Regions from separate parts of the Homo sapiens genome. Here regions 1, 2 and 3 are each linked to region 4. Evidence: fine-mapped expression QTL. A gene starts in region 4. Each other region holds a variant in brackets. All regions are shown on one strand. Distances are from middle to middle. Region 1 overlaps PPARD (peroxisome proliferator activated receptor delta). Region 2 overlaps ZNF76 (zinc finger protein 76). Region 3 overlaps DEF6 (DEF6 guanine nucleotide exchange factor). Region 4 holds the start of DEF6 (DEF6 guanine nucleotide exchange factor).

Region 1 (6,095 bases), 110 kb after region 4:
AAAACTCCCCAGTGACTACAGTGTACAGCCGAGTTGGCAGGTCTAGAGCAGGGAGAGAGAGCAGAAGGAGTCTCTGATCACTCCAGGTTCTGGTTCTGATGAGTGGGTAGACAGGCAGGTGGGTTGCTAAAGTAAAGATTACTAGAGGACGAATGGGTTTGGGGAAAATGATGGGTTCTGTTTGGATAGATTGAGTTTGAGCTGTCGGTAAAATATCTGAGAGTTGGGGTCCCACAGATGCTTAACATCTTAAAGCAGATCTTTTCTTCTCCTGATCCTTCCACAAGGTCTGGTGCAGACATTTCCCCGCTGGGAGACTCTCCACAGTACCTCATGATCTTATCATCTCTGACTGTGGCATTTGTGGATAATGTTTTACTTGCTAAGGGTTGGAACTGTCTCCTCCTGGGTGATGTGGACGTGGCATCACCACCCAGTAAGTTGTCACCTTGGAAAGACTCCAGGATGGAGCACATCTTCCTTTTTCTGATGTCTCTGCTATTGAGGCCATGGTTGCAGATCTGCTGTCAACATGAGCCAAGAACAGCAGGGCTTTATGTCTTTTTTCCACACCCAACCACTGAAAGGATGGGACTCACCCCTTCAGGAACAGTAGCACAGCAGAGCCGTGATTCTTGGGCCTGAGTGCTGATAGGGACAGGGTCGGGGATGGGAGGCGTGATGCATATCTGGATCTCCAGGTGGGCTGGAGAGTTGGGAAAAGCCCCTCAAGTCATTCCAATGTGCTTCCTGGAGACTCAGAACAGAAGGCAGCAGAGGAGGCAGGGAAGGGTGGCACAGTGATGTGTCACCTCTCTAGTTTATGGAGCCTGCTCCGAACCCCACAAACCCACTACAAGAGCCAGGTGGGAAGGGTGATAGGGCAGGTGACTTGTGATACAAGGAGCAGAGACCATGGTATAGCACTGCAGGAACTAGGGAAGGAGCAGGAGCAGAAGAACCCCCTCCATGACAGCAGCCCCCAAGCGTGCCCCACTCGCACCATCCTCTTCCTTGTCACTGCCTCCCCTGACCTCTTCCTGTCTTCTCCTCTGCCCAGGCTGATGGGAACCACCCTGTAGAGGTCCATCTGCGTTCAGACCCAGACGATGCCAGAGCTATGACTGGGCCTGCAGGTGTGGCGCCGAGGGGAGATCAGCCATGGAGCAGCCACAGGAGGAAGCCCCTGAGGTCCGGGAAGAGGAGGAGAAAGAGGAAGTGGCAGAGGCAGAAGGAGCCCCAGAGCTCAATGGGGGACCACAGCATGCACTTCCTTCCAGCAGCTACACAGGTGAGGAGAGGACTGGCAGGGGACACGGGGCAGAGGAGGCACAGCCCAGTGCAGTGGGGATCCTGGCCCTCTGCAAACGCCATCATGTGGGGCGCAGAGTAGCAGAGTGCTGAAGGACTGGAGCCGGAAGCCTGGGTTCACGCCCAGTGCGGTGGGGATCTGCTCTGCCACTCACCAGCAGTGGGGCCTGGAGCAAGCTGCACCACTTCCTTCTGTAAAACAGGCCAAAGGATGGTAGGTGATGTGGATATGGGCTTTCGTGAGAATTAAATGAGTGGGCATCTGTAACACATGTCATCATCATTATTAGTATTCCCACCACTGTTAACACAAGGCATCTGAGACCAATCTCCACTAACAGCACACTAGAAAGATCAGCTGTACCTGGGATTGTTATGATCAGTCGAAACACACAGTTCAATTGGTCTGGTAATAATTATACACATCATCATTGAGCCGTATCATAATTAGATAAAAATGCTAAGCAGTTAGTATGAATAACTCAACTAATATTATTTTTATGCAGCCAAGCAGTTGTAGCTTCTCCTGTCTCACTTATTGGTTCCCCTTTATTTATCAGCAGTGCAGACAGTTTTCTCTAGTACCCTGTACTGTTCTGTCATCTTCATCATCATCATGTTATGTTTACCTTCAAAAGCACCCAGAATCCATGCAGCCCCTGGCTTTCCCTGCTGCAGTTCCCCCTGCTTTTTTGTTTTTGTGGTTTTTGAGACAAAGTCTCCTTCTGTTGCCCAGACTAGAGTGCAGTGGCACAGTCTCAGCTCACTGCAACCTCTGCCTCCTGGGTTCAAGTGATTCTCCTGCCTCAGCCTCCCGAGTAGCTGGGATTATAGGCGTGCACCACCACGCCCGGCTAATTTTTGTATTTTTTTAGTAAAGATGGGGTTTCACCATGTTGGCCAGGCTGGTCTCGAACCGCTGGGCTCAAGCAATCCACCCACCTCAGCCTCCCAAAGTGCTGGGATTACAAGCAGGAGCCACCGCGCCTGGCCTGATCCCTCTGCTTCTTGCTTTCTCCCACCACTTCTCTCCTTACCCAAGTGCTGCAGGCCTGCACATGCAGCTCATCCTCGCTCCTCCCCTTAGAGGGAACTCAGGGTCATAAGGATATACTGCTGGGAGTAGACACCCTGCACTCGCTGCTGCTTTCAGCTGCAGGAGATCCTAGCCACAGGCGGTGACTCAGGCAGAGGAGCAAGCCCACCCCGCAGAAATGGGCTCTGGACCCCTGTGACTGCATGGAGCAGGAGGAGGCAGTTAGTGTCCAAGCTAAGGCAGGGTGAAGGCTGTGGAGGTAGCGCAGGCTCCTGTTTGGGTCTGCAGCTAAGATGGGTCTGAATCCTGGAGCCACACCACCTTGAACCTGCAAAGCAAGTCCCAGAATTTTGCAGAAGTTCTTCCTCTTCAGTGTATAGAGTTGGGTGGAGGGAGTATAGAGCCATCATTCAGTCCTTCTCATCTCACCCAGGATCACCTGGGAGTGACCAAAGTAGGCCAAATGTGATTCTAGGGCCAAAGTGAAGGTGTCCGCCATTCCCCGAGTAAGCAACTTCCTGTCTATTGGCTGGTAACTGGGATGGCTTTGGAGACACAGCCTGTCTCAGAAGAGAGGAACAGCTAACCAGGAGTGATAATTCACTCAGTGCCAGTAGCACATACTGTTCTAAATCTGAAGAAGGTAGGGAGGGTTAGAAAGCAAAGGGAAGACAGTGGGGACTAAGAATGAGTGTGGGATGTCATGAGGATTCAGGGGAGAATGCAAGGAGAAGAGACGGCCACAGGGTTTGTGGCTATGCCGCCTGCCGTGGCCCACCTCATCCCCACATCTGAGCCCAGGCAGATGGAAGTCCCCTGCAGAGCAGTGTTCTGTCCTGGAGTTTCCTCCACACCCCTTCTTGGGACCAGGGCTGTTTCCCAAATAGCATCACTGTTCCCGTGCAGGCCAGGTGAGGTGCCTGGGAGCAGGGGTAGGGTGAGGCAGGCATGGCGGTGACCTCTCAGGCAGCTTCGTTGTGGGATTTAGGGCACAGCGGGAAACGTCCAGGGCAGAGGTTGCCTCACCAGTCACATGGTACTATGTAGG[C/A]GGTGGTGTTTAATAGATTCTGTTTATCAATAAGTGGATGAAGTGGAGATAGACTTCCTTGTTCAGTCATTGAAACAGGAGAGAGGGTTACTTGACATAATCACTTTGTGTTAAAGCTGTAGTGTATGAAAAGTTCCCAAAAATTCTACAAGACAAGCAACCTAGCAGGAAAATCAGAACAGGTAACAGTAAGACAAATACGAATGGCCTGAAATCCCGACAGGTTTTTCAGTCTAACCAACTCAAAGAAAGCACCTTAAGTTGCAATGCCATTTCACCTGTCAGATGGGTGGGGAGGACTTGGTCCTCCCACCACCAGGGGTGAAAGGGTAGTGTGGGCCAACACTTCTTAATGTGTGATTCTTTTTTTTTTTTTTTGAGACAGAGCCTGGCTCTGTCGCTCAGGCTGGAGTGCAGTGGCACACGATCTCAACTCACTGAAACCTCTGCCTCCCGGGCTCAAGCGATTCTCCTGCCTCAGCCTCCCAAGTAGCTGGAATTACAGGCGTGCACCACCGTGCCTGGCTAATTTTTGTATTTTTAGTAGAGATGGGGTTCCACTGTGTTGGCCAGGCTAGTCACGAACTCCTCAGGTGATCCTCCCGCCTCGGCCTCCCAAAGTGTTGGGATTTCAGGTGTGAGCCACCACACCTGGCCAAGTGTGCATTTCTTTTACCCTGCATTCCCACTTCTAGGAACGTGTCCTGTGTAAGTACTTGCTCAGCATGCTCAGAGATTCCCATGCCAGCTTATTTACTGCAGGACTGCTCATAAGAGCAAAAATAGGAACGTGCCCATCTGTGGGGAACTGGTTATGTAAACTGTGGTAGAGCCATATGGTGGAATACTCTGGAGTCATTGAAAAGGATAAGGCTGGTTTATATATATATTAAATAAGTTCCTGACAAGTTGGGGATCCCATTGTTTAAAATCCTTATGTTTCATAGAAGGCACCGGAAGAGTCTATACCGAAGGACTCAGGGGCTAACTCTGAGGAGCAGGATCATGGTTAAGGAGGCTGTGTCATAAGATCCTGCATACCCTTCTGTGTTTTTCTCAACAAGTCTGCACTACTTCCATAATTTGAAAGGCAACTGTACTTTTTTTAAGGGTAAAATTAACTGTTTAAAAGGGGGGTGAGGATCTGGCAGGTGAGGGGCCCTGGAGACAGAGCCTGATCATGTGTCCAGAGCAGAAGGGCTTGGAGATCACAGAGACCAGGGCAGGCATCCCAGGTCTGTCACTGTGAGCTGTAGCCCTCGCCAGTGCCATCACTTCTCCAAGTCTCATTCTCTTCACCTTTATAGGCTGTGTCCTACCCAGCCTGAGGGCCAGCCAGGTGAGAGTCAGTGGGGGTATGTGACACATCGCAGGTCTCAGCACCTGCTAGTTCTCTGCCCCATCCCCATGAGTTATTACTTTGGCCTCGGGAGTCCCCTGAGGGACCCATAAGGACAGCGCACAGCTTTGAGCCCTGAAACAGCAGGAAGGCTCCACAGTCACCCCTGACCACCCTCCTCAGCAGTTCAGCACTGACTCTCAGTGCAGATATTGAGCTCAACACCTGCCATGCACCTTCTCACCCTCCCCCCAGCCAGGCAGGACAGACCTTCCCATCAACAAGGAAACTGAGGTTACCAGAAACCCACTTGCCAGGGTCCCCTGGGCGTGTAGGAGTAGAGACAGCTAGAGCCAGGATTCACCTCCCATTCCCATTCTCATCCCTCCTGCTTCAGTGACATCCATCCCAATCACCCTTGAGAAAGAGGAAGATAAAGTGTCCTTCCTCCTGGCCTCAGCACCTCCTCACTTGGCAAGCACTTGGTGGGCATCAGGCTGGGCCCAGCACTGTGCCCAGGGCTGGCCATACAGTGGTGGACAAGGCTGAGTGCCTGTCCCAAGGAGCCCACAGTTCAGGCAAACAGGACAGCAGAAGTAAAGAGGCTGCTCAGTAACCCAGCCTCAAATCCCTGCAGAATTTGGCCTGACTTCAGAAGCTGCTGGGTGCTTGTTTGCCTGTGAGCTCTGCCAGCAAAGTAAATAGACCAATCGGGCGCCTCCTGGCTGTCTTCACAGCCATGACAACGGCATTCTCCCAGCATTGGAGGCTAGATATGCAGGAGAGCTCTCAGCCACAAATGATGTGAATAAGGTCAATAGTGTCTATTTGCTGAACTTGTCATCAAAGATGGTGAAACTGATACTTTACTCTCTGGGTGAGAGGGCTAGTGTTTACACTGAATCCAAACATTTGGATAATGACATGGTGCCTCCTCAGCAGTGACTGTGTCTTCTTGTTCATCATAATAATGTTATTGATTAGCGGTACTGAACATGTAGGTATGCGTAGTAGTGAGATGCCGAGGTTAAGAGCTCAGCTCCAGGAATTGCATGGTTCTAGGTTATAATTCTTGCTCTGTCACTGTATTAGTCAGGGTTCTCCAGAGAAGGAGAACCTGTGTGTGTGTGTGTGTGTGTGTGTTGAAAGAAAGAGATGTGTTTTAACGAATTGGTTCACACAGTTGTTGGAGTGGCAAGTCCAAATTTTGAAAGGCAGGCAGGCTGGAGAGCCGGGGAAGTTGATGTTGCAGCTCAAGTCCAAAGGCAGCCTGGAGGCAGAATTTCCTGTTCCACAGTGGGGCCACGGTAGGCACTCAGTCTTTTTTCTTAAGGCCTTCAGTTGTTGGATGAGGGCCACTC
Region 2 (6,043 bases), 31 kb before region 4:
GCTCGGGTGGGGGAATGGGTGTAAGTGCTTTTCTTTTTCTACTGTATTTCTGGTAAGATAGGTTGTTTGACGCAGTTGCTCAAATACAGTGGTAACAGCATCAGGGGCTGTCTTATATAAATCTGTTCTCAAGAAAACAGCTAGTTTGAAATATTTAGTGTGGGTTGCAGAGACGATTAAGGAACAGAGGAAACCAAGGAGGCAAAATGTTGGTAATTTTTGAAGTTGGATAATGGGTTCAAGAGGTTCATTATACCATTCTTTCCATTTTTGTGTATGTTGGAAATCCATTATAAAAAGATTAAAGGCAGGGGCAGCTAGGTGAACAAGTGCAAATTTAGCACTGTTCCTTGGAAAACACCTCAGAGCAAATGAGCTACTGTTTCTGAATCAGTACTGTTATCTAGGTTAAGTAGTATATTTAGTCCTAACCTTTCTCTGACCTCTTCTGTTTGTGAGATATCAGGATGCTAAATTTAAAAATTAGCACCCTGCAGAATTCTGTACCTAGTGGCCTGGGAATTGTAACATCCTGGCATCAAGCACCTGTTGCACTGCTTCTCAGCTTAGGTATGGTTTCTGGTGGAATAGGGCTGGACTGGACCTGAGAAGAGGGTGAGGCAGTAAGGAGGAAAGAGGGACTGAGGGCTGGAGAGAGACCAGAGCTCTACTAGGGTCTTCCCCTTCTTGCCTAAAGGTTTCAAGTTACTGGGAGATCCTAAAGGTATATATATTCATTCATTCACTGATTCATTCATCCCACAAATATTTGGTGAATATCTGCTGTGTGCCAGGTACTTTTCTAGGTACTGGGAATAGAGCAGTGAGCTCACTGTTTGAGGAATGGACAGGGTAGAGACAGACAATAAACAAATAAGTAAAATATATATTGAGAAAATTAAGCAGAGAAGGGAGATAGAAAGTGCCAGGAGTAGGCCAGGTGCAGTGGCACACACCTGTAATCCCAGCACTTTGGGAGGCTGGGTTGGGTAGATAACATGAGGCCAGGAGTTTGAGACCAGCCTGGCCAACATGGCGAAACCCCAGCTCTACTAAAAATACAAAAATTAGCCAGGCGTGGTGGCAGGCACCTGTAATCCCAGCTACTCGGGAGGCTGAGGCACGAGAATCACTTCAACCCAGGAGGCAGAGGTTGCAGTGAGCTGAGATCACGCTGCTGCACTCCAGCCTGGGCGACAGAGCGAGACTCTGTCTCAAAAAAAAAAAAAAAAGAAGAAGAAGAAGAAGAAAATGCCAGGATTCTGGGTGTTAAAATTTTAAATAGGGTAGTTGAAGAGGTTCCCACTAAAAAGGTAACATTTGAGCAAAGACCTGAAGGAAGTTAGGGGGTAAGTCAAGCATACATCTAGGGGAAATTTATTCCAGTCAGGAAGAACAGCAAACACAAAGGCCCTGAGGCAGGAATGTGCCCTATATATTCAAGAAACATGAGGAAGCCAGCCAATACGGCTGCAGTATATTAGTGAGAGAAGAAATGGCAGATGTTGCGGTGGGGGTGAATTGGGGGCAGATCACACAGGCCACTGGCTTGTAGTGTGAGTTGTGAGTGAGATGGTAGCCATTAGAGAATTCTAGGCAGATAAATAACATGGCCTGACATATTGAAAAGGTCATTGTGGCTGCTGTGTTGAGAATAAGCTATAACGGGGCAAAAATGGAAGGAGAGAAACTGGTTAGGAGGCTACTACAATAGTCTAAACAAGAGAAGTTGGTGGCTTGAACCCAAGGTGAAGCAATGGAAAGGTGAGAAGTGGTTGGCTTCTGGATGTATTTGGAAAGGAGCCAACAGGATTTGCTGATGGACTGGATGTGATATATAAAAGAAATAGCAGTTGAGGGTGGCTACAATTTTTTTTTTTTTCAAGACATCTCGCTCTGTCGCCCACGGTGGAGTGCAGTGGCGTGATCTCAGCTCACTGCAACCTCCGCCTCCTGGGTTCAAGTGATTCTTCTGCCTCAGCCTCCTGAGTAGCTGGGACTACAGGTGCATGCCAGCGCACCCGGCTAATTTTTGTATTTTTAGTAGAGATGGGGTTTCACCATATTTGCCAGGCTGGTCTCAAACTCCTGAACTCGTGATCTGCCTGGCTCCCACATTTTTGGCCTAAGTAACAAAATGGTAAAATTCCCATCTACTGAAATTGGGGAGCCTGGAAGGAGGGCAGGTTGTTAGAAGGAGGAGATAAGGAATTCACTCTTGAACATGTCAAGTTCGAAGTGTTTTTTGGATATCAAAGTCGAGATGTTGAGTAAGCAGCTGGATATTCAAGTCTTTTGGAGCCTAGGAAATGTCTACTCTCAGGAAATAAAAGAACACCATCACCTGGCAAGAGACAGCGGAGTATGGGAAGAACACTGGTGGTCAGGTGTTAGGCCCTGCTCTGCCACCAGGTAGCTATGTGATCCTTTGGGACTCCTCTGGCAACGCAGGCCTCTGTCTCTTCATCTGCAAAATGACTGCTTTATTTTATTTTATTGTCTATTTCTTTTTTTTTTTTTTTTTTTTTTGAGACGGAGTCTCGCTCGTCACCCAGGCTGAAGTGCAGTGGCGCCATCTCGGCTCACTGCAAGCTCTGCCTCCCGGGTTCACGCCATTCTCCTGCCTCAGCCTCCTGAGTAGCTGGGACTACAGGTGCCCACCACCGCGCCCGGCTAATTTTTGTATTTTTAGTAGAGACGGGGTTTCACCGTGTTAACCAGGATGGTCTCTATCTCCTGACTTTGTGATCCGCCCGCCTTGGCCTCCCAAAGTGCTGGGATTACAGGCTTGAGCCACTGCATCCGGCCCCTTATCTGTTTCTTTGACAAGGTCTTGTTCTGTCACCCAGGCTGGAGTGCAGTGGCGCAATCATGGAGGCTCACTGCAGCAGTGACCTCTCCAGCTCAATCAGTCCTCCCATGTCAGCCTCCTGAGTAGCTGGGACTACAGAGATGGGCACCACCACGCCTAGCTAATTTTTGTATTTTTGGTAGAGAGGGTTTCACCATGCTGCCCAGGCTGGTCCTGAACTCCTGGGCTCAAGCCTCCACCTGCCTCGGTCTCCCAAGGTGCTGGGATTACAGGCATGAGTCACCACACCCAGCCAAAATGACCACTTTAGACTAGGAATGAGTTGTGTTCTCAGCCCCTCCTATTGTGGGAGTTGATGAATTAAGTGCTTAGAATAAACATGATAATATATGTGTATCTGAGAGCATTTTGGAAACTGCTGAGTTCTACACCAGGTAGTGGTATTGGCAATAAGATTTCTTCCTTCATTCGCTGAAGTAATACCCAGTGAGTGCCTGCCATGTGGTGGGCACTATGTCACATGAGGATACGATGATGGAGAAGACGAATCTGTGCCCTCAGGGAGCACCGCAGACAACCCCCTGTTGTGGCTTCACTGCCAAGTGCAGACGAAACATGGGGCTGGAGTGTGACATTAGCCAGGGAAAGCTTGTTCCTGATCTGGGTCTCCGTGGAAACAGTGAACGTGCATGTCAAAGATGAGGCAAGATGGTAATCCCGATGAGGGAAAAGTCATCCACTTAGCTGGACTAGGGAAGAGTTGGGAGTGGTTGGGAAGGGTTGGAGTGGTGGGGGCTTCAGTTCCTTCCCTCCTCCATTCTTTCGTTCAACATTTACTTCCTTGCCAGGAGCTTCTCTTAGAAGCTCACAGTTCTGTGGTAGATGAAGAGTTTCATATCTGGTCTCAGGAGTTCAACTTAGATATTACAATAAGCAGAACTGAATCAGGATTCAAATCTGAGCTAAAGAGCTCAGTTA[G/A]CTATGTAACCTAGTAGTATTAATCATTTGGTATCTGTGGGCACATTCTTTGTTAGGTGCTAATTAGGCTGAAAGGCATGCTCTCCAGGAACTTAAATTATAATCACTGTAACAGAAAGTAAGAATGTTATTTTCCCCTAAAAGAGTCAGGTGTTAAGGAAAACACACTCCGTGGCAGTGTAACCCTTTAACTGCATCTGGAAACTGTCCCTGTGGCTGTGTTTATTCTTGTGTCATTTAGATGTCTACGTTTATATCGTGAGGAGAGTCTCTTTGACCAGATAAGAGTATAAGATATAGCTCATCCTAATTGACAAAATTAGTCACCCACAAAATTAGTTTAGAGGAGACATAGTCAACATCTACCACGTAATGGAATGGGGAAATTTTGTCCTGGAGAGTGAAAAAAGAAAAAACAAACAAACAAAAAAAACGAAACCTGGCCGGGTGTAGTGGCTCACACCTGTAATCCGCACTTTGGGAGGCTGAGATGGGCAGATCACGAAGTCAGGAATTCAAGACCAGCCTGGCCAACATGGTGAAACCCCATCTCTACTAAAAATACAAAAATTAGCTGGGCATGGTGGCGTGCAGGAGAATTGCTTGAACCAGGACCCAGGAGGCGGAGGTTGCAGTGAGCCAAGATCGCACCATTGCTCTCCAGCCTGGGCTATAGAACAAGACTTCATCTCAAAAAGAGAGAAAAAAAAAAAAAAAACCACCTGCAATACAAATCCAAGTGCAGCTGAAGCCATTGTCTTTAACAGATGGCCCTAACCTGTTTTGAGTGCTGTTTCCTAAAGCTGCCAACAAACTTCAAATGCCTTTTACCCTGGCAGCTATCAGTCAAGATATAGAAATGTGATGGTCTCACAAATCCTATGCAATTGTCTCTTTTGCTGGCAAAAGTATGAGGCCAGCCGGGTGTGGTGGCTCATGTCTGTAATCCCAGCACTTTGGGAGGCTGAGGCGGGTGGTTCACCTGAGGTCAGGAGTTCGAGACCAGCTTGGCAAACATGGTAAAACCCCATCTCTACTAAAAATACAAAAATTTGCCGGGCATGGTGGCAGGCGCCTGTAGTCCCAGCCACTGGGGAGGCTGAGGCAGGAAAATAGCTTGAACCTGGGAGGCGGAGGTTGTGGTGAGCTAAGATCATGCCATTGCACTCCAGCCTGGGCGACAGAGCGAGACTCTGTCTCAAAAAAAAAAAAAAAAAAAAAAATGTATGAGGCGTACTCAGGCTCCTCTCTTCCAGTTCAGAATCAGAAGGATTTGTGATGTTGGACAGGTCATTCGGGGTCTCAGGCTCATTATACTGTCATTACCTGGAAGCCAGAGTGCCTCTTTTCTAGTGCCTCTATTTGACATTCCCTTAGAGCTGGCCCTCTGGTGAATAGTTCATCCCTAAGAAGGCCAGATACAACTTGTTACCCTGGTACTATCTCACTTCATCACTTCATTTGTTGGGAGTTCCTGCTACTTTTGGATGGTTGATAAAGCATGAGACCCATACAGTTAAGATAAGAACCAAGGAACTGGGAGCTCTTTGAGGTTGTAGAACTGACTTGAGGCTTTGATGTTGGGGATTTGGCAGGGGTGCCTAAGACCAGAGTTCTTTCTCTGAGATCATCTTCTCAACCCAGGAAATACTGTCCTGTGGCCACATGGAGCAATGAAGGGGAAAGGTAGACCCTGCTTAGGCCACCACTTCGTCCAGACCCACCCTTGTGACCAGGCTGGGGACACACATGTTGAAGCCACCATGTCCTCAGGTCCTGTATAGACTTGCTGTTGCCTCATGCTCAGCTGATCAGCTTTCCATATGATGTTATAGAATGGCCTCCATGAATCACGAAGCTCAGTTTTCGGATGTGCTTTTGCTGTAGATCAGTAACATGGAATCCATCATATCAACACTGGACTCTCCATTCCTCATGTATGGAGAATCATAGATATTCCTGTAACCAACAAAGGGAGTACAAAGCATGCATTTAGACTTTCTATTTTTAATTTTTTATTTATGTTGCGTAGGTAACACATTCTCAAGGCTTTTTTTATTTTTATTTTTTTATTGAGACCAAGTCTTGCTCTGTCGCCCAAGCTGGAATGCAGTGGTGCAATCTTGGCTCACAGCAACCTCTGCCTCCTGGGTTCAAGTGATTCTCCAGCCTCAGCCTCCCAAGTAGCTGGGCCTACAGGCACGTGCCACCATGCCCAGCTAATTTTTGTATTTTTAGTAGAGATGGGGTTTC
Region 3 (6,225 bases), 23 kb after region 4:
GCTAGGTGGCTTGGGTCTGGGTGGTCCTTAGGCGCCTCATCTGTGAAAAGGGGGTGATAATACTTTGTCCAGCGGGAGGTTGGAGAGTGGACTCGGGAAACTCCTAAGGCCCCTTTCGGGCCGTGTGCGAGGATCCTACTGACCCGCTCCCGCTCTTCGGCAGCCATCCAGATGGCGATCCGGCTGCAGGCCGAGGGGAAGACGTCCCTACACAAGGACCTGAAGCAGAAACGGCGCGAGCAGCGGGAGCAGCGGGAGCGGCGCCGGGCGGCCAAGGAAGAGGAGCTGCTGCGGCTGCAGCAGCTGCAGGAGGAGAAGGAGCGGAAGCTGCAGGAGCTGGAGCTGCTGCAGGAGGCGCAGCGGCAGGCCGAGCGGCTGCTGCAGGAGGAGGAGGAACGGCGCCGCAGCCAGCACCGCGAGCTGCAGCAGGCGCTCGAGGGCCAACTGCGCGAGGCGGAGCAGGTGGGGTTAGCTCCCGGCGCCGGGGACGGGACCGGTGGGCTGGGAGGCTGGCCAGGGGCGGAGCGCCGGGGGCGGGGCCTGGGCAGAGGGCGGAGCTCCTGGGTTGAGGGGCGTGCACTGGGGTGGAGCTTGAAATGAGGGATTGTTGGGACAGAGTCCGCGGGTTTGAAAAAGAGATTTGGGATGGGGCTTCCGCCAGGGACAGAACCTGGGGCTAGGAAAGGGGTGTGGGGCGAGGTCCGAGCCCGTGGATGGATGGGGCCTGGTTCGGAGACCTTGGCTGTGGGTTGGGGCTTGGGCAGAAGGAGCCGTTGAAGACCGTGTGATTGGGGATTAGACTGGACCAAGTTTGGACTAGACTTGAACTAAGTTTACAGTGAAACCAGTTTGAGAGGCAAGCGGGACGCGTATGGAGGCGGACTAGGTGTGCAGAGGCAATTAGATTTAGGATTTAAGAAACCTGGATCTGGAGTCAGAAACACGTAGATTCAATCCTAGCTCTGCTTCTTACGAGCCCCGTGATCCCAGGCAAGTTCATTTTACTGAGCCTTATCAGTAAAATGCTAATGCTAATAGAACTTTGCTCACAGAGGTACGGTGAGGATTAAATGAGGAAACACTTGTAGTGTCCAGTAACTTTTTGTTGTAATAATTGTAGTTATAGTCACATCCTTCCTAGCATCAGCCATGATTATAACATATTATTATATATTATAATAATTATTAAGTTAGTGCTAGGAAGGAGATGACCATATTTTTATATCTTATTTAATTATATAATGTTGTTTAATTACATGTTATATAATTATGATTAAGGTTGGTACTAGGAAGGAAATAACTTGAGCCCGTTTCCCCCACGTGGCATCTGTTCACCGACCATTATCTGTTCCAGTCAGGCTCTCAGAAAGGGGTCAGATCAGGAAACCCCAACATGAAGGAGTTCCCCAGACCCTCACCCCTAGGCAGCTTAGCAACATGCCCACCCCCTCCTCCTCCGCCCCCACGTGCCCCTTTTGACCTGGCTCTTGGTCCACCACCTCCCCCCTCCACAGGCCCGGGCCTCCATGCAGGCTGAGATGGAGCTGAAGGAGGAGGAGGCTGCCCGGCAGCGGCAGCGCATCAAGGAGCTGGAGGAGATGCAGCAGCGGTTGCAGGAGGCCCTGCAACTAGAGGTGAAAGCTCGGCGAGATGAAGAATCTGTGCGAATCGCTCAGACCAGGTAGGCCTGAGGAACCTCTTCTGGTTCTCTCACCACCCCTCCTGGAACACACCCCAGTTTTCCTGCTTGCTGTGCACCTGCAAGGTGCCTTGGCACTAGAGGCTACACAGTACACACTCACCCGGCAGACTGCTGGAAGAGGAGGAAGAGAAGCTGAAGCAGTTGATGCAGCTGAAGGAGGAGCAGGAGCGCTACATCGAACGGGCGCAGCAGGAGAAGGAAGAGCTGCAGCAGGAGATGGCACAGCAGAGCCGCTCCCTGCAGCAGGCCCAGCAGCAGCTGGAGGAGGTGCGGCAGAACCGGCAGAGGGCTGACGAGGATGTGGAGGTGAGGCCTGGGGTGGGATGGGGTGGAGGCTGGCAGGGTGAGCTCATTAGGGCACAGGCTCTGGAGCCAGGCTGCCTTCCCTCAAACCCTGGCCCTAGCAGCTGCTGGCTGTGTGACTTTGGACAAATGCCCAAACTTCTTGGAGTTAGTCTCTCACCTGGGAAACTGGTAATAGCGTTGTTATGAAGATTAAATGAGATGATACATGATACTTAGTACGTAGTAAGTGCTGAAGAAACATTTGCTGCTATCTTTGTTCACATCATTATTAATCTGGGGAAAAATTTTTCCTTCTACCCTTCCAAGCCCCTGTCTTGCTATCCTTGTACTTTGGCTCTACTCCTTGGAGCTTTAATCTCCATAAATTCAAACACAGAAATATGGAACATAGAAAGGGAAAATTCCTCCATGATCCCCCCCACCTCACAACCACTGCTAATGGCTCCGTGAAATGTTGAACAGAGGTTCTTGGATTAGGTGCTGGAAAGGTGGTGTAGTGCAGTGGCTTAGAGCTCAAGTGTATCCCTGGGCAAGTCACTTAACCTCTTTTGAACTTTTTTGTTGTTAACTTCTGCTCTGGAAGTTAAATAAGATAATAAATATGCTTAGCACATCTTAGCTGCTCAATAAACGGAAACTATTATTATGGTTACATTTTATCTTTTGGAAGTCCATGAGTCCCATGAAATTGGAGGCAAACTCTATTCATGTATGTATTAATAACTCTATGAGCATATATGGTTTTTCTCTGGGGAGATGATCAGTAGTCTTGGTCAGATTTTAAGCAGCCTGCGAACCTGAAAAGATCAAGACTCCATGCCATGGATGATGGTTCTGATCACTCCCCACTGGCCCTGTCCCCACAGGCTGCCCAGAGAAAACTGCGCCAGGCCAGCACCAACGTGAAACACTGGAATGTCCAGATGAACCGGCTGATGCATCCAATTGAGCCTGGAGGTGAGAAGGAATAGACTCTGGAGCTTTCCCTGGAGCTGGGAGGGAGAAAGGAGGGAGAAAGGTCTCCCTGGGAGACCTCCAGATCTCCCAGGGCCAGCAAAAGCAGGACTGGCAGTCAGGAGGCTCCCCTCTCCTCTGAGGGCTGAGGCAAGGCCCCTCGCCTCTCACCTTTGCATGCCTTTCTCCTTACTTGCCTGCCTTCTCTCTGCCAGATAAGCGTCCGGTCACCAGCAGCTCCTTCTCAGGCTTCCAGCCCCCTCTGCTTGCCCACCGTGACTCCTCCCTAAAGCGCCTGACCCGCTGGGGATCCCAGGGCAACAGGACCCCCTCGCCCAACAGCAATGAGCAGCAGAAGTCCCTCAATGGTGGGGATGAGGCTCCTGCCCCGGCTTCCACCCCTCAGGAAGATAAACTGGATCCAGCACCAGAAAATTAGCCTCTCTTAGCCCCTTGTTCTTCCCAATGTCATATCCACCAGGACCTGGCCACAGCTGGCCTGTGGGTGATCCCAGCTCTTACTAGGAGAGGGAGCTGAGGTCCTGGTGCCAGGGGCCCAGGCCCTCCAACCATAAACAGTCCAGGATGGAACCTGGTTCACCCTTCATACCAGCTCCAAGCCCCAGACCATGGGAGCTGTCTGGGATGTTGATCCTTGAGAACTTGGCCCTGTGCTTTAGACCCAAGGACCCGATTC[T/C]TGGGCTAGGAAAGAGAGAACAAGCAAGCCGGGGCTACCTGCCCCCAGGTGGCCACCAAGTTGTGGAAGCACATTTCTAAATAAAAACTGCTCTTAGAATGAATTATTGGCTCAGGTCTGTCCATCTCTCCTGCCATTTCCTCCCTTCCTCCCTCAAGCCCCGTTATAGGTTCCAAAGAGCAGTAAAAGTATAATAAAGTGGTTAAGAAAGACCCTGCAGCTAGACTGCCTGGGTTCTGAACCTGGCTTTGCTACTTACTAACTGATTGACTTTGGTCAATTTTCTTTATATCTCTGTGTTTCAGTTCCCACGTTGGTAAAATAGAGATAATGACTGTACTTACCATATAGGGTTATATGAGGATTAAGTGGCACACGAGCAAGCACCATTATTAGAATCAGCCAAAAGTGTTTATTGAGTGTCTACTGCAGTTTTCCAGGTTATTTAATTCTCATGACAACTCTTAGAGCTGGAAATCACCATTGGCATTTTACAAATGGATGAATTGAGGTTCAGAGAGATTTGGCAACTTTACCAAAGCCTTTCAGACTTGCTTTTCTTCCCATCATCTCTGACTCGCTGACCTTGTTAGCCAAGACAGAGATCTGGGTATTTAGGAAGATTCATGTCCTCTCTCTCAGCCCCCTCATCCAAACCCCATCATCAAATCCAATAGACTCTCTCCTTCCTACTCTCCTATCTGTCCCTCCTTTTCCATCCCCATGGCTACTGCCATGGCTGAGGCCTTTGTGTTTTCTACCTGGTTGTTAACCTTTAACTCCTCCTCCGTCTTGCCCATCTCACCAAGTCCAACTGATTGGACTTCCTTGGTTACTCTCAGATCCACACTTTTGAGGCCATGTCTGTCATGGCTACTGCCTTATTCTGGCTCTTGTCACTTCCCAACTAGATAAGAGCAGTAACCAGGTCTCCTTGTCAACCCCTCTCCCCATTGCCACCTGGATAGGATTTCTAAAATGCAGATTTGTCCTTCACTCTTCCTAATTTCCAGTCCCTTGGTGGTATCCTAGAGTTTTGATATTTAAATTCACATTCCCATATGTGGCAGATGAGGCCCATGGCGATCTGTCCCAGGAGGGCCTCCTATGCCTCTGCCTTATAGAGCTACTTGCAGCTCCCTCTAGGCCTCACACTGACTTCCTTTCCCCCATCCTTGTAACAGCCTTCATAACTAAATGCTTGAGCCCCTCAAGGGCAGGGACATATCTTCTTGAACTAAGAGCCACGGTGATTGGCTCTTAGAAGGCATGCAACAAATATTTGTCAAATACATATATGAATGAATAAATTCTGAAGTGAATAATTCAGGTGTCACAAAGCTAAAAAGTTATAGAGCAGCTGAAATTCAAGTTCATTCGTTTTCCAGGTCCCTACAAGAGACAGGGTCTCTACAAAACTCGGCTGGCCTCCAACTCCCGGGCTCAAGCAGTTTTCCCGCCTCAGCTTCCCAAAGTGCTGGGATTATAGGCAGGAGCCAATGCACTCTGCCCTCATTCAACAAATGTTTATTAAGCTCTTATTATATGCCAGCTTCTGGCTATATTGTACAGAACAAAAACAGAGTCCCTGCCTTCCTGGAGTTTATGTGCTATCTGATTTTTTGAAACCAAGTCTCCAGGCTGGAGACTGTGCCTGATCAGTCTCCAGGCTGGAGCACAGTGCCTGATCAGTCTCCAGGCTGGAGCACAGTGCCTGATCAGTCTCCAGGCTGGAGCACAGTGCCTGATCTTGGTTCACTGCAACCTCCACCTCCCAGGTTCAGACGACTCTCCTATCTCAACCTCTGGAGTAGCTGGGATTACAGGCGTGTGCCACCACACCTGGCATTTTTTTGTTGTTTTGTACTTTTAGTAGAGACATGGTTTCACTACGTTGGTCAGGCTAGTCTCGAAATCCTGGCCTCAAGTGATCTGCCCGCCTCAGCCTCCCAAATTGCTGGGATTACAGGTGTGAGCCACTGCACCTGATTTACTTTGCAAATACACTAAACCTGATTGCAAGGAACTTCATTACAGTCTATTTAAAGTGTCGTGAAACAAAGCTGCTAATATAATGAGGCAGATTTCAAGGATGAGCGGTGAAGCTCAAAGTGCTGTAGGAATTCAGAGAAAAGGAAGTTTTAGGTAGGAGCTGGGATTTGGGATGGCCTTTACTTTTTAATAAAGGCAGCTGGGTGCAGTGGCTCACACCTGTAATCCCAGCACTTTGGGAGGCCAAGGTGGGTGGATTGTTTGAGTTCAGGAGTTTGAGACCAGCCTGGGCAACATGGCGAAAACCCATCTCTACAAAAAATACAAAAAAAAGTTAGCCGGGTGTGGTAGCAGACACCTGTAGTCCCAGCTACTTAGGAGGCTCAGGTGGGAGGATCACCTGAGCCCAGGAGGTTGAAGCTGCAGTGAGCTGTGATCGTGCCACTGCACTCCAGACTGGGTGATAGAGTGAGACACTATCTCAAAAAAAAAAAAAAAAAAAAAAAGACAGAAATTGTATGCATCCTATCCTCTGTAACTATTGCTTTTTGTTTTTTTTTTATTTTTTTAATTT
Region 4 (5,000 bases):
ACAGTCAATTAATTCCTCAGGGGCCTGTGGCTGAAGAAAAGGTGCCCAGCCCCCACCACTCCTCAGCTGCCCCCCAACCTCTCTATGGCAGAGAGGCAGGGAGTGGCCCTGTACATAGACTGCTGGGGATTGGGTTTGATTTGTTTTGTTTTTTTTAATTCCATTTTGATAATTTTTTTCCTGCTCTGGGTGGTGGTGGCACATGGATGAATGAGTATTTAATAAAAGTTCCAAATTTCCACCTGGGTCCCTCCATCCTTTCAGCTCTAGGCCCGGGTGGCAGGGTTGGTCAAATCAGGCTATCAGCCCTGTCTCCCTGGCACAAACCCCACTCAGCCTTGGTGCCAGAGTGGTGGGGCTGGCCTGCCAGGGACACAGGTGGGAAGGAAGCCCAGTATAAGATAAAGCCCTGAGGAGCTGCTGGTGGCTTCTTGCCCACAGCTGAGCAGGTGGGCTCCAGGGTAGCCAAACAGGACCAGGGTGACCGCTGCTTCCAGGCTCTGGCTGAATCTCAGGCCTCATGTGATTGAGCTGGGGGAACTCTTTTCCTGCCTTTTCTTGTGAAACGTAGTCAGAGCCCCTCCAACCCAGCCACCCCCAAATCACACAGTCAGCTTCTCCAAGAGGGCAAAGCCCCAGGTTAGAGTGAGGCTGGGGGACACCTTTGCCAAGGTTACTGAGATTCAAGGAGCAGAGTCTGATGCCTCTGGAGCTGAAGTCTTGGCTCTATTACCCAGCTCTGGGGGTGCCCACCTAGGTGCCTAGGACTGTGCTGTGGGATTTCAAAGCCACAATCAGACCCCACTGAAAAGTGAGTTGGTGAGACCAGATCAGCTCCAGGGGGAAGAAGGGATACAGGGGAAGGCACTTGATGGGAAGAAGCTCTGGGTTTGACTCTGCCTACACAGGAACATTGCAGGGATTGGTGGTGCCTCTTTTCCTCTCTCTGCTGTGATGGATATGCCCCAACCCCTTCCTGCCTCCTAGGATTGGAACCCCCTCCTCTGATCCAGGCATCCTCTCCCAGGATGCCTAGAAAGCTCCCATTTACTCTTGCCACCAGCTCCTTGGGAAGAGAGGGGCGGGGGCGTGCTTCCAGGCAGGAGGTATTCCCAGCACCTTACTTGGAGGGATTTTTATTTGGCTTAGGGGGTAGGGGGAGGTGTCTTAGAATTGGCCTGAGCAGATGTCTTCAACATCTGTGACCACCATTCCTGGTGTGGGCGTGTCCCAGTCCTTTTGGACACTGGATCTGAAGAAAGGAAGCACTGACATGGAGGGCCCTGAATCCCAAGCCTGCTGCTGCTGGGACCCTTAAAGTTGAGGTGCACCACAAGGCTCACCCCCATGTGTTTCAGGAAGTTTCCAGTGTCTTCAGGGCTACTGGGGCTAGAGTGGGCAGTGCTCTGAGTACCGTTTAGAGCCAGTGCTGAGGGGATAGGGAGCCAGCAAGTCAAGTGCCACATCCTGACCTGGAGAGGTGCCCTGGCCCATTTCCTTCTCCAGCTTTGTGATGTTGCCTTTGTTTCCTTCCACTTGGATGGAGTCCCACCACCATGGTAATGTTAAGTAGCACCAAAAGCTCTACCCAGAGCCTACTATGTGCTTTACGTCCATTCTCAGACATTCTTACAACACGGAGGCATTTTTCCTGCTTTACAAATGAGGAAACTGCTCAAGGAGGTTAAGTAACTTACCCAAGGCCTCCTATGTTGAACTAGGACTGGACCTTTACTCTGTCTGACCCCAATATCAGGATGAGCTTGCTTTTTCCCTCAGCAAGCTGCGTCTGGGAGCCCTGGAAGGCTCCAGAAGCCTCCGGGTCTGAGGAGGCTTCTAAAAGGGCCTCACATGCCCCGGGAGCCACGTGGATACAGAACGAGGGTTCCCGCTCTCGGAGAGTTGGTCCCCAGTTCCCATGCAGGGAGTGGAGCCTCTGAGCACTGCCAGAACAACAGGCAGGGTTCTCGACAGCACAGAGCCTCACGCAATGTGCAGGCAGGTGGTGCTCTCGCTCCACCACGGCACCTCTGCGGTCTCTGCAGCCGTTTGCATTTCCTGAAACCGGATCTTAGTGTCAGAGCCGCCCCCAGCCGGGCGGGCGCCTCAGCCATGGCCCTGCGCAAGGAACTGCTCAAGTCCATCTGGTACGCCTTTACCGCGCTGGACGTGGAGAAGAGTGGCAAAGTCTCCAAGTCCCAGCTCAAGGTGAGGGGCACCCGGGACCCGGGGGAGGACGGCAGATGCACCACACCAGCCCCTGCCGCCTGGGAGCCAGGTGTGGACACTGTGCCACTCCAGGGGCACCCAGCCATCCAGCGTCCCGGGCCTGGGGTCGGGGGGCTGGTCCTGGGTAACTGGGCCAACGTAGCCTGGTAGATGCCGCTGCCCACCCTCCAGAGACCTAGTGAAGTGTGTGCAGAAACCTTGCGCAGAACTGGGCCCCACAACTGGAGGCCAGGAGGTTCTGAGGGCCATTATGGGGTTCTGAGGGCCAGGAGCCAGGCCACATCCCAGACTCTGTGTGATGAGCACACACACCTCCACAGAGTCATGCTTGGGCACGCAGTGTGCTCTTTCTTGCTGCTTCCTCCTGACTTTCAAGAGAAACAGTTAGCCAGTGCTTGGCAGTCATTTCCTCTGGAGCTGAGAGAGGCATAAAGGGGCCGCCCCCAGTCCCAAACCTGTCTGGCCTGTCTAACCCTGCCCGCCAGGTGGGACAGAGCTGCGGAGTGGGTGAGGACTGAGGACCCTATTATACTGCTACGCAGCTCACCCCCCTATCCACCACACATATCAGGTTGGGAAACTTACCTTAGGCCTTGAGACCTCAGGTAGGGAAGGGGGAGAATCTAAGCCCAGGAAAATCCCAATCAATGATTGTCCTGAAGTCAATCATCTGGCCTAGACAATTTCTGGGAGGCCAAGGAGTTTTTCTCTCTCTTCCTCTAGTCCTCCAGTAGTGCTGCCTTCCCTACCCTAGTTAGTGGGGAGGAAGCAAGGCCCTCAGCCACTAGAATCAGCGAACACTGGGGGAAAGGAGCAAGGTAGGCCTCAGCTCTCTAGGACCTGCCATAGGGGTGCCTTCGTTCACTCTGCAAGTACTTGAGTGCCCCTCGTGAGGCTCTGTGCCTGGCATGTGGCTAGGCACTAAACTGGTGTCTCCCTGCCCCATCCTCCAAAGGAGACGTGTGGTCTCAAGGAAACCTCCATTCTTAATGACCGAGGTAGAGGGTGCTGGATACCTGAGAGATGAATGGGACAGAACAGTTATTGTGCCCCACCACCGTTCCAACCCCCTACTTTACTGAACTTGGATGTGAGGAACTTGAATATCCCAAACTGGTCCTATGTTAAATTCCTTACCTGGATTTGTGAGCATCTAATAGATGATTTCACTCCCCCAGGAAGGAGAGCCCACTACTATCTTTTGTCACCTAGGGAGAACCTCCTAACAGGCAGATTCTTCCTTACATCCTATTTAAATCTCTTGTATTGCAGATCATGTCATTTGGTTGGGTCCTCAGTATAAATGGAAAAAAGTCGATCATCCAAAATCCATTTCTGCAAACTCTGTGTCCCACCCCTACCTCCCACCCTGTCCCTTTAATATCTTGCCAGACAATACCAGCCCCCGTGGCTTTTTGCTTCCAGGGTAACATTTTCCACTTCTGTATTACCTGTGGCCACTGAGACCTCTCCAGGCTCTCTCTGCCCTTCACATGGAAAGTACAGCCTTTAAGTGGCTCCCCTTTTCCTGGTGCCATCAGCCAGTAAAGCCTCCTAGCTTGAGCCTCTGTCTTGCCCTCTAAAAGGGCCACTACCCACTCCCTCATCCCCACAGGTTGCGTATTTCTAGGGAAATACTCCATGGAGAGCTTGCATGCTTGAACTGTCCACTGTCTGTACCTCATCACAGCTCATATTGAACCTACTGCCAGCAACATCTCTGGTCACACAGGATCAATTATAGAGTTCCCTCCTACTTGACAGAAAACTTGTCAACTCTGGAAACCTGGGCTAACAGTGGGAGTCTCAGGGGCCAAGTGGGGGTGGGGCGGAAATGGCGGGGCTCCTTTCAAGCCCATAATAGTGAATATTGGAAGAGGAGGAAGTAGTGATAGTGTTGGGGGGCGGGGATTCCAGCAAAGCAAAGGAGTAATAGAGAAGTGGTCAAAAGGCAAAGGAGGAAGCAGACGAGAGAGTTATACAAGCAGGGCCCACCTCTCCCCAGAAAAGACTTGGGGATGAGGGAAAAGACCTTGGAGTCAATCTGGTTTTTTGTTGTTGTTTTAGAGATGAGATCTTGTTCTATCACTCATGCTGGAGTGCAGTGGTGCAGTCATAGCTCACGACAGCCTCAAACTCCTGGGTTCAAGCGATCTTCCTACTTCAGCCTCCTGAGTAGCTGGGACTACAGGCACATGCCACCACGCCTGGCTAATTTTTTTATTTTTTATTTTTTAGAGCCTGAGTCTCATTATGTTGCCCCGGCTGGTTTCAGACTTCTGGCCTCAAGTGATCCTCTGGCTTCTGCCTCCTGAGTAGCTGGAATTATAGTCTTGAGCCACCTCACTGGGCTGGTTACTAAAACCATCCCTAGCGTTAGGGTCCTGGGTTGGAACCTGGCAAGAGACCTGCACTAGCCCAGGGCAAGATGTGTCGGTGCGTGACATTTGCCACTTCTCCCCTAATGTGTTGGTAGACGGGCTCCCAGTGGCTGTCCTGGGCAAACCCACGATGAGGCCAGAGGGTAGGAGGAAGAACAGCACGTCCTCTGAGAAAAGCCCAAGGAGTAGGGTTGTTTCTCCTGGAAAAGAGAAGGCTTGAGGGAAAAACCAGATACTTCTTTCTCTCTTTGAATTCTTGTAGAAAGTACAATGGCTTCATCCAGTTGGGTTGAGAACAGAGAAAGTAAACCAATAGGAATGGCACTCCTGCCCAGGATGGATTTAGGTTGAACACAAAACTTCCCAGGAGTTGAGGGCTGTGAGTTCTTG

The links.
Region 1: its variant is fine-mapped to the expression of DEF6 in whole blood (INTERVAL, PIP above 0.99).
Region 2: its variant is fine-mapped to the expression of DEF6 in whole blood (INTERVAL, PIP 0.93).
Region 3: its variant is fine-mapped to the expression of DEF6 in whole blood (TOPMed, PIP above 0.99).

The regions. Positions count from the first base shown.
Region 1 is chr6:35,409,927-35,416,021 of GRCh38, forward strand. PPARD (peroxisome proliferator activated receptor delta) reads left to right here. Exons shown (of 8, transcript NM_006238.5): 3 at 1,061-1,291. The coding sequence starts at 1,162. Among named protein-coding and RNA genes, the nearest start is that of FANCE, 39 kb to the right of the region's middle. RefSeq lists enhancers at 729-1,262, 1,263-1,795. The variant C/A (reference allele first, on the strand shown) is at 3,396.
Region 2 is chr6:35,264,291-35,270,333 of GRCh38, forward strand. All of the region lies in intron 1 of ZNF76 (zinc finger protein 76), which reads left to right. Among named protein-coding and RNA genes, the nearest start is that of ZNF76, 7.6 kb to the left of the region's middle. The variant G/A (reference allele first, on the strand shown) is at 3,791.
Region 3 is chr6:35,318,010-35,324,234 of GRCh38, forward strand. DEF6 (DEF6 guanine nucleotide exchange factor) reads left to right here. Exons shown (of 11, transcript NM_022047.4): 7 at 164-462; 8 at 1,515-1,681; 9 at 1,810-2,008; 10 at 2,875-2,965; 11 at 3,178-3,762. The coding sequence ends at 3,401. Among named protein-coding and RNA genes, the nearest start is that of PPARD, 21 kb to the right of the region's middle. The variant T/C (reference allele first, on the strand shown) is at 3,660.
Region 4 is chr6:35,295,745-35,300,744 of GRCh38, forward strand. It overlaps DEF6 (DEF6 guanine nucleotide exchange factor), which reads left to right and starts at 2,074. Exons shown (of 11, transcript NM_022047.4): 1 at 2,074-2,208. The coding sequence starts at 2,113. It overlaps ZNF76 (zinc finger protein 76), which reads left to right. Exons shown (of 14, transcript NM_003427.5): 14 at 1-241. RefSeq lists a silencer at 411-575.